2 separate regions of the Homo sapiens genome follow, and region 2 is linked to region 1. The links come from fine-mapping of genetic effects on gene expression. A gene starts in region 1. The other region holds a variant in brackets. All regions are shown on one strand. Distances are from middle to middle. Region 1 holds the start of CHRDL1 (chordin like 1). Region 2 overlaps CHRDL1 (chordin like 1).

The links. PIP is the estimated chance that this variant, and not a neighbour inherited with it, causes the effect.
Region 2: its variant is fine-mapped to the expression of CHRDL1 in sigmoid colon (GTEx, PIP 0.94).

Annotation. Positions count from the first base shown.
Region 1 is chrX:110,792,489-110,797,869 of GRCh38, forward strand. CHRDL1 (chordin like 1) reads right to left here and starts at 3,329. Exons shown (of 12, transcript NM_001143981.2): 1 at 3,256-3,329.
Region 2 is chrX:110,692,546-110,697,926 of GRCh38, forward strand. It overlaps CHRDL1 (chordin like 1), which reads right to left. Exons shown (of 12, transcript NM_001143981.2): 8 at 1,618-1,786. Among named protein-coding and RNA genes, the nearest start is that of CHRDL1, 100 kb to the right of the region's middle. The variant T/C (reference allele first, on the strand shown) is at 2,415.

The sequences.
Region 1 (5,381 bases):
GAAATCTTCCTTTCTAAGGGAATTAAAGTTGATTTCTCAAGAGATTTTTTTGGGAGAAAAGGGAAACTTTAGCTTGCAAAAACGGTTATTTTAGCAAACAAGGTAAAAGTAACAAGCATGAGACCAAGCAATTTCTGAAATGAAAGTTAACTAATCTTAGCTTCAAGACTACTTTTAATCCTTTTGGAATGAAGTACAAATTGATCAGTTTCTCCTGTGTCCTCTATGAGATCTACAAGGATCTTTGGTTTGGCAACTAATATTGCAAAAGATAGATGTAATTAGCAAATGGATGCAATTAAACACCTGAAAAGTTTTACTGCTTAAAATGGTTCCAACATATTCCTCCCCCAAGAAGTCCATTGTAAAATGGAAATTTTAAATGGGCCATTTTTAGGGGAAATTGGGCAAATTAAATAGATAATTTGTTCACCTTGCACCACCATGCAAAAGACCATTAAAACAACTACAGTTCTTCAAAACATGAGATTGGCATTCCCAGTATAAGGGGTAGAAATCTTAAACCTTTTGAACCTTGGAACACAGAAAGTTTGCTGTAGCTCACATCTAGTCACGGATCATTTCCACAGATGTTAGAGTTTGCAAAATTCCTCCAATGGGTGATCTGAAAATATTGAAATGTTCTAAAAACACCAGATTCAATCTGAATGGGAAATGAACTCATTGATCTTTCCAGAAAGTCCAACCTAAATATTGCACATAAAGAACTTGAAGGAATGCAAAACGATCATTTTGGAGAGTTGAATATCTTTGGGCTCTGAAGTAGATGCTACAGCTCCTACTTAAATGCTATGAAGTTGCCTGGGTCATTCAAAATCCACTGTTTCAATTATGAATGCATAACCAAGGAAGAACTGATGATAGAGTAATCTGTGCTATCAAACAAGATTTGCAGCACCGTCTGCCTTCCTTCTTTACCTCCTCCCTGCTCCTTAAAGAACCAAATTCTCTCAGGACATGTTCCTACCCATCTAAAGACCTGAGTTCTGATGTCTTGGTCCCCTCTGTGAGTTTGTGGCCCACTTACAATCACTCAGAATGTTACTGTCCCTTGAGGGCTACCACGTTTATTCGAAACAAATCATTTTCATTAACAATTTAACACAGCTACCCACCTCAGTGAGGTTCTTCCTGAGCCTATTCTAATAAGTTTATTCCCCAAGCCTCCAAAAGAGAAAGATTTTTAACCACTGAAATCCAATTTATCACATTCATATATGGATTTCAACGGGTGTTTCTGAAACCATGGTTTTAGGGTCTCCCCATGCGAGAATCAACAGGGCTGCTTTTCTTGTATAATGGTTGGGCGATTCGGTGAACTGTAGCATTGCTTCATAACTCAAGTTGGCAAGAAAACAGCTCATAGATTTTTTTGCCTTTCTTAGGTCCCAACTAATATTATGAGCAAATAAAAAAGTTGGTAACTAGAGAGCAATTAATCTCCTTTGGCGTTCCTGTCATCTGTGTGGCCTCCCAGGCTGTGATGGAGAACATCAGAAAATGAATCGCTTTATAAATATTCACTTTTGATTTACAAGATCCTGAAGTCCTGCCTTTGTATTCTGTGCAGAAATATGAACCAAGAAGAGTTCCCTCCCCAGATCTCCTCACTGTTCAATTTCTCTTTATCTCTTCAGCTTTTTCTTTTAGGGAAGGGGGTGGTTCAAAACATGTGTTGGGACTGCAGCAGTAAACACTAGCAAGCATTGCTCAGCGAACTTAGCCGACTCTTATTCTTGCAAAGAGCCAAACTGTCCTTAATTTTTCAAATTATACTTTGACCCAGTTAACTGGAGTTATTTCTGCATTAACTCTCTGTCTGCTTCACACAGGCTGTTGTGCCATTGAACTTGCACTGGCTCTTTTACAGGTTACTTAGACATGTAGCCATTGACATGCTTCAGGGGATCCAGGACCCAACAAGAAAGCAACAACAACAACAAAAAAACAAAACCCTGCAACTAACACAGGTAGTGGAGGTGGGATGGGAGAGTTCCTGTGTTTTACAAGAGAAAGAGAAATGTATCAAGTACCAAAAGAAAGGTATTTATTAAGGTGCTTCCATGAAACAAGCATTCACATTGTTCATCTGCGTTAAGCAAAGGGACCAACTGCTCCTTGCCCAGCTGTGACTGCAAGGCAATCTGGGCCATCAAGTGTCAGGAGCCCACTTTCAGAACAGGTCTCCTGGGTAGAACAGAAGCAAAGAGACATCCCCACAGGAAGGCTAAGGGATGAACACATGTCAGCCAGTTCTTCACGCCCCACAGTGTCTCTTTAATCCTCCTGAGAGGCTTGACTGACCTTGTAATCTCACATTGACTATCATCTGTGGGACAGCCCCTAGGGTAGCAATTTTCTTTCCGACAAACAATAAGAAAGACACTGGAGTCCCAGGCCCTTGTCCATCAGCTGAAATCCTCTCCCCACTCTACCACCCAGCAAGAAAAGTTCAGTTAACTGGTGGTGTGTTGCCACTGAAAATGGCAGTTTTAACCCAGGGTATCTCTTGTTGGAGGAAATGCTTTCATTGCTGCTTATGACTGACAAACAATGCCTCGCATTTGGCTTGCAAAACACCTTTCTATCATTTCATTTCATTCCACACAACTCCACCTTCAAAATGGGCACTGGGGGGACCCAGAGAACTCAAATAACTTTAGTGGCAGGGCTGGGAGGGACTGGAAAGCAGGCTTTCCGGGCCCTATGTTCTGGCAATATACCACGTTGCTTCCAGAGCCTAGTGTCTCAAATTCTGACCCCCGTAGTCAGGGACAAAAAATGAGGCAGATGGCCAGAGGATAGGATAGGGAGCCTTTCGCCCATCTACCCTGCTACATTAACTTTACCATGTATTCATCAGCAAAATGAGAAAACAGGCTCAGGAATACAGGCAGTGATTAAGGGGACTGCAGAGTCCCTTGGGTAGCTCAGGGTGGAGTACCTAAGTGACCTCTCAAAGCGCCAGAGCATAAAGAAATGCAGGCCGAGTGGGGAGGGACGAGCTGTGAGTTCGAATTCAGAGACCCCCAACTTGCTTTGGTCAGAAGCCTTGGGCCCCACCTCCATCCAGGTTGCTAACTGCTGGAGCACAGAACAGGTTGGGGTGGCAGGGGAATTTGGGGCACCCTGGGGAAACTTCCAGGGACGGCTCCGGCCAAGAGAAGGCAACCCACCTGTGCAAAGGCTGGAAAAGGAGGTGAGGGAAGCGGGCGCCGGGCACTGCTCACTAACCTGGGCACTGGCCTTCTCCGTCTGCCACGCGTGCACGCGCTCCGAGCTCCCCGGGGCGCTCTCGTCCGAGGTCTGGGGCTGGCAGGTTGTGGCGAGAGCTAGAGTGCGCGCGAGGGGGGAGGGGGAACTCAAAAGTGGGTGGGAGGAAAAACATCACCGCCCTCACACCACGAGGGAGCAGCGGCTTGCTCGGCTCCCGGGGGCAGAGCCAAGGCGCGGGCGCGGCGGCCCGGGGCCACCTGCCCGCCCTCCCGCTCGCTCCCCACTTGGCCCGAGAAGCCGGCCGCTCGGCGCTGGCGGGAAGTCCGCAAGCACGCAGCCGCTGCAAGCACGCACACTTTCTCCACCCCGGCACAATGGCTTTATTTCTGCTCCCCCGGCCCGAAAGTTTAAAAATCGGGAGAAAGTGTGAGACTCAGCCGGCTACTTTCCCATCACACAGCGCCCCCACTGCAGCCCCCACTCCTTTGGCTAGGCGAGCGTTGGGGTCTTAAAGGGACCGCACAGCTCCTCCGGTCCCTCCTCCCCCTCTGCACTGGATGCACCTAGGAGCTCCCCACCACTCGCGCACGCCCTGAAGATACCGACTACCCTCTGACTCCCCTGCCTGGAAGCCCACACCCGCTCTCCTCCGGCACCAAGGCCTTTCCGAGGTGTGCACCTGGTCTGGTACTGAGCTGGTGCCCTGGACACAGAATGAACCCTCCTCGCAAATCACGCCCTAGCATGCTGCTTATCATTTCACGGCGTTTCCCATATCCACACTGTGGCTAACAGAGTGACAAAGCTTTGGTTTGGTGTCCTTAAAGGCGGGGTGGAGATGGGTGTGTGTAGGGTCAGGGATTAGAAATCCACTTTCTCTTACAAACTGGGCTCCCAAGCCTCATGGAAAGGGCCTGTTCTAACTGTTAAGTGTCTTGAAGAAAACTTGGTGCCACACACTATACCCACCATTTTTTTTTTAAATGAGTCCCTAAGCTTCTAAGTTGGGCCAAGAGCTCAACCTGGAAATCACAGTAGCACTGCTGATGCCTTGGTGGGCCTGCCTACTCCAAATTTGTGTTTATTCAACAAGTGATAGTTGCAAAGAATTGTCAGAAACTTCTAGGGTCCAGGAAAGTGCTGCCTCGACAGACAAAATTTTAAGCCCCTAAATTTGGAGAAGAACCGCAGAGCTTTTTTCTAGATGAACTAGATAAATATCTATATTCCTAACATCTGTATAGTACTTTATGGCTTACGGAGTGTTTTCACATACATCAACATTACTTTTTAAACCCTCAAAACCAACCGAACTACCTGAGGTCTCAAGTGTTAGAGTTGGTGGGGAACTTCTGAACCATTCAGCTTAACTTCATCATTTCACAGAAGAGGAAACTGAATTGGGGGAAGAGGATGATGTATCTAAGGTCACACAGCTAGTAAATGACAAATTTGAGATTCCAATCCAGATTCCCTGACTTTCAACCCACTACTCTCTGGTTGTTATCTCCAGTCTGTAGATGAGGAAATTGATGTTCAGAGAAACTGTGGCTTGTCAAAAAAACAAACAAACAAACAAACAAACCACTTATCAGGAACAGAAAACAAAGAAAAATTAAAACAAGAATAATTGTCCCTGAACGTTACCTCCTTTTGCTTTTTCAGAAGTGTTAATAGTATCCAGCTAGCCCCTGCATTGCTGGTGATGTTTATTTCACTGTTAACAAAGGAAAGGGGGCCCTTTCTGTAATGTTGCCTTCAGGGCCCAAAATGTCTAGCTCCGTCCTGCTGCCTGGGTAGCCATACACTGCCACATGCATTCAATTTGTGCTGTTGTATATCGGTTTGAACTTGCTGATTTGTTGCCTTATAACTGTTCTCATGCCGTTTAATGCAGTGATGTTTTGTCTTACTAGATTGTGAGTTCTTCAAGGGCAAGGACTGGTTGTTCAATTTCTCTTGTGCGTGCATTACCCAACTCCCATCATTACTTCCAACATGCTTACAGAGTATTCTGGAAAATGAGTTTCAAGGGATAGTCTGAGACAAACATAAATTCTAGCATTTAAAATAAATAGACTCACTGGGATTTAAAAGTTCATCTATTTGGCTACAACCACTCACTCCCTTGCTTGGTGTAGAAT
Region 2 (5,381 bases), 100 kb before region 1:
ACTTTTAAAAGGCTTTGAAATACTTTCACAGCAAATGGAATCTATTGGAGGCAATTTAGAATTGAAAATCAAGCTATCTTTACCTTTCTTCCTGATTTCATAAGCTTTTATCAGAAATCCTTGGAACTTAAAAATAATAAAATACAAATCAAACACAGATCGATAGTAAGTATTTCCAATTCTTCTACTACATCACCATTTTCCATTAATGGTTTTATTTCGAATGTTTTTTTAAGCCTGCAAATTTCAAAAGCAATTTAATTTTTTTATCTGTAATCTGAAATATACATCTAACTAGTAACAGATGTGATCAACTAGCTTTGGCTTGACTAGCTTTGTTGAGATTTATGGTAGGAGTTCTTTGTAACGGATTGTTTTTCACCCATGTTATTCAATCATTTGGTTTAATAATTTATTACTTTTAACCCATTCAGAAAACTGCTTTTGATTTGTTTTCCCTTTAAACGAAACAAAACATGTTTGTGGTTTCATAAAAGGAAACAGCTGAGCCCTTGCTCCAACGAGCTGGTTGACAGGAGGCCTAAAAAAGTAAGAAGCAGTCAATTGTTTGATTGAGTTTCTCCTCCCTGACTCCTGCTACTGGTGTGTGTGGGGGTGGGGGCAGGGGGCGGGTGGAGGCCAGAAAATGCTGTGTAAGAAGACATTGGAAGCTATGGAAGTCTATGGGTGCCTGCTGTAGCCAGTTGATCAACTAAGTGGACAGCATGTCAGTCTTAACCTGATCAGTCTTCCTGGTGCTCAGCCAGGTGGTTTTGGGATTTCTCACTGGATTACTCTTTTTCCTTTTTAAAATTTTTAATTTAGAGATAGGGTCTTACTTTGTCCCCCAGGATGGAGTGTAATGGCACAATCATAGCTCACTGTAACCCTGAACTCCTGGGCTCAAGTGATCCTCCTGTCTTAGCCTCCCAAGTAGCTAGGACTACAGGCACTCACTACCATACTTGGCTAATATTTTTTCATTAAATTTTTTTTTGTAGAGTCTTATTATGTTGCCCAGCCTGGTTTGAACCCCTGGCCTCGAGTGATCCTCCTGCCTCGACCTCCCAAAGTGCTGTGAGGCATGAGCCACTGCACCTGGATTACTCGTTTCTAAGGATAGTCTCATATGCTACACATTTAACCAGAATCTGAGTGTGGGGCTAGGAATATGTATCTTTAACGAGAGCCCCAGGGTAATCTGGGGTGCATTGAGGTGTGAGAATTGCTATTTCTAAGGTATAGATAAGAGCTTCAGTGATGTTTGGCACTGAGTACCTTTGAATGTTGGGTCCCCTACTAAAACACAGACAATCACTCATTCTGTTAAAGACCCAAGAAATTTTCCCAAATGACCTACAATCCCCAGGGATAATTGAGAAAATACAAGAGGCTGTTTACAAAAGGGACCGGACTATGCTCTTTTGGCTGCATTTAAGGAAGTCCAAAGAGTCTCCTGGAGTCACCTGACTATACCCACAGACTTGATGCTAAGTGAGCCACAAGTGAATATGGGCTATTCCTGGGAGAAAGGGTCCTTTCCCAGCTCCAGCCCTGCAAAGACCAGGGCTGCTGAAGCCTTGTTGTGGAAGTATACAAAAGAAGGATGCCCCTTACCTTGTCCATGCTTGTGTTTGTTATTGATGACAATTTGCACAATGGTTCCTGATGCTTGCTGGGAATCCATAAGAGCTCCCCGGTGACTTCTGGCCCCAGGAAAGCGGGACAGACCTCCAGCCTGTCGGCTTGGTGGAGGATCATAGTGAGAGCGGTGGTAAGAATGTCTCTGTAAAATAACAAGAACAAATTTAGTCCAAAAGCCACCAATGAGATCACAGAGATTAAGTTATATACTAGAAGTCATTCAATAATTTTGATTTATAGTGGTGAGCTCTGATTTCAGCTGCATGCTTACCTACACCAATAGAAATAGGGATGTGGTCATGTACAAGCAGCTGACATTTTTTTCATTAAAATTTTTTTTTAATGACAACTTGCCAAGGTTTATCTCTCTTCTTCTAAAAGATAGGACTAGATTTACAGGCAAACTTCTCAGGGAGAAAAGAGCCAAAAAGGCTAAAGCGTCCTTCCTGCTGCCAAGACTCTCACATTTCAGTTTAAGAGTTAAGACAGTAGTCTGCACGCAAGGCAGAATGTGAATAGAGGCTGCAGAAGAAGTAAGCAGTCCTGTGCAAATCAGAAGGAGAAAGAGAGAGCTTCTAGTTGGGGAGGGCTTGTGACCTGGGCCACGAAGGATGGGTAGACTTTTTTACAGGCAGAAGTTAAGTGGAATAGTCCAGGCAGAGGTTTACAAGTTGAGAAGGTGAAGAAGAGAACATCGAGTCCATAAAAGGGAACAGTTGCAGAATAACATTCCAAAAGTGGGTTGAAGCCAGATCATGGAAGACTTTAAA[T/C]GACAGGCTAAGGGGTGAAGACTTTATTTGGTAAGCAATAGAGGTGAGGGCATAGAAGGCTTTGAGGGATTTTTTTTTTTAAAGTTAGAGAAATAATGTAATCAGAACTGTTTCAAAGCATTGAATCCTGATCATGCATAGGGTGAACTGGATAGGAGGAAAAGATGAGATTCGAGTATAGTCTTGATAAGATGTACTTAGACTCTAAAGACAGGTAATGGCATAAGATCATACAATGCAGTACAAATACCCTAGGTATTTTATAGGTAGAAGAATTGATAGTACATGACAGTATTGGCATGTAAGCTCTACGAAATCAAGGACTTTTTGTTCACTGCTATATCTCCAGTGCCTAGATTTTAGTGTCAGGCATCTAGAAGGTGTTCATCAAATACTTGTTGAGTGAACAAAACTCTGGTACCTAAGAAAAGCTTAGAGTCTTGTCATACAAGTAATCTTTCAGCAAGGGTTCAACACACGTGATGACCAGACTATTGTGCTACCCACCCCTCTCCCAGGAGCTAAAGTAGGCTGGGGGTACAAGAAGATGAAATGAATGAAGAATGGAACCTTAAGGCTTAAAGCCAAGTAAGATTAATTGTATTTTATAGGCAATTGTTAGGGGTGAAGGAGGGGGAACCCATTAAAAAACTCTTTCACAGGCAATTGAAAAGGAAGGTCTTTATATTCAGTGACAGAAATAGTGAGGAACCTTGGGAAGATAGTTATGGGGTCCCCTGACCATATCCCATAAAACACTGTTTAAAGTTATGGGCCACAGACAGGCATGTTGCAAATTTCACTTTGGGAAGTATTATTGCCCTCTTGGCAGGAAGGGGCCACTGGTAGGGGAAAGGGAGAGTAAACAGGAGCTGAAGTAAGAGGACCTTTTTTAGCCTTTTGAAAGACAATGTTATTCTATCTAAGAAGAGCCTATGTTGGTGCATTGCTATCAAAATTCACACAAATAAAAATTTGCATCAGTTTGTTTTCATGCACATGGATAGGATTCTCAGTTCAAATATTTCTCATTCCCACAATGGCTCATATGTCCTTTTCTGCCATAATCACTCACATTCCACAAAGGCCATTATAGGTTGCTCTGTCCTTTTTGAAGTTTGGCAAAGTTTTGCCAAAGGAACACATAGAGGACAGTTTGGCTGGTTGGTGTCCCACTGATCCTAAAAAGAAGCAGTTGGACTGGGATAGAATTAGAGAGGGAAGGTTGTTGACCCAGGATAAGCTGCAAGTACGAGAAGTTCTCTGACTCATGATGGTGAACACAAAATGAAAAGCCATTCTTTAGCACCAACGTCTCAGACCTGGGACATATAATAATGGTAGGAAAATGATCATGATGAAAAAACAAAATCCTCAAGAATTTTGATCACAGGCCCTATTGTAGACCAGTCAGTCCCCCAGAACCTAATCTTGTTGAAGTCTTTTGTTTTACAGACAGAGAAACTGAGGCCAAGGAGGAGAGGCAGTTTACTCATGGTGATAATGAAGATTGAGTTTTTGGAGATGGTAGGAGTGTAGGAGTAGGGGGAAGATGAATAGAAGGAGGAAGAGAAGGAGAAGAAGGAGAAAGTGGAAGAAAGAATGTCCAATCAAACTCAGTGGTCTATAACCATTTGACTAAAAGCTGGTGCAAAGAGAAGTTCTTTCAGATACAAAAGTTCATTCAGCTACAATGTTCACAACCACATATACCACATACTCCACTTTGGCTATACACTAAAATCACCCGGTGAGCTGTAAAAAATACTCATACCTGGGTCCCGCTCTGAGGTATCCTTATGTAAGTGGTTTGGGGGAAGGCCTGGGCATTAGGATTTTATATACTCCCCAAGAGACTCTGGTTTGAAGCCAAGGTTGGGAATCACTGACATAAAGGATTTTCTGTTTGGGGGCTGGAGTGGGTGGTGGTGGTGTGTGATTTTGATTTAAGGGTAATGGTTCTTTTAGAGTTCCTCCCCTAAACAAATGAAAGAGACTTATGAGGGGCCATTCTGACCTTGTAACTCAGAGCAAAGGAGAAAAAGGTTATTAACGCCCTGAAGTTGTAAGTGAAATTGGAGCTTATCTTAAAAATTAGCTGCAACTAGCCTGCTTGAGAGAGCGGGTCAAAACCAGTTAGAAATGACCATATAGCTATGATCTTTTATTTTGCTCAGTATTTTGGTATTTTTTGATTTACTTACTTGAAAGACTGAAAAATATTTCAGGCTTTAGAGGTGGCTCTAAAACAGTTCTTTTCCAGTGTTGAAAAATCCCCACTATTGTAGAGGACCCCCAAGAATTTCATGTTCTAAAGTCTAAAATATAAGAGTTTTATTGGTGTAGACAAGAAAACATCAGGGTCCAGAAAGGGCCCTCATGTTTGTGATACTGTACTATAGATTTTCAAGATGTTACCATTTGGGGAAACTGGGCAAAGGGAATATGGGATCTCTCTGTATTTTCTGCTACAACTGCAAGTGAATCTATAGTTATCTCAAAATAAAAAAAGTTTAATTTAAAAAGCGGCTTCAGAATATATTCTAATCCATACAGCCATTAAAACATTGTATCTTAATCACTACCAACCTAGGACTATCTCTGGCTGGAAGACACTTAGGCCAATTTCCTTCCCAAACCATTGTTCTGACAGTACAAATGAGACATGGATTTTTATCTGTTTCATGTCGTTTCTATCCCAAACGCTTTCACTTTTTTTAATGGTAAATTTCAACGTAATCTACAGGGGGCAAAAATCAGGGCTTGGCTGTTGTCCAAAACAAAATTATGCATGCTTTCATGTTTTGGCTTTCTAGTCTGCACCTACTTCTTCCTCCCCACATACCACACCACTCCACACACACACACACACACACACACACACACACACACACACACACACACACACACACACACACACGCAGACACACTCCCCACCAATGGCACGAGGACCAATTCATGAGAAAT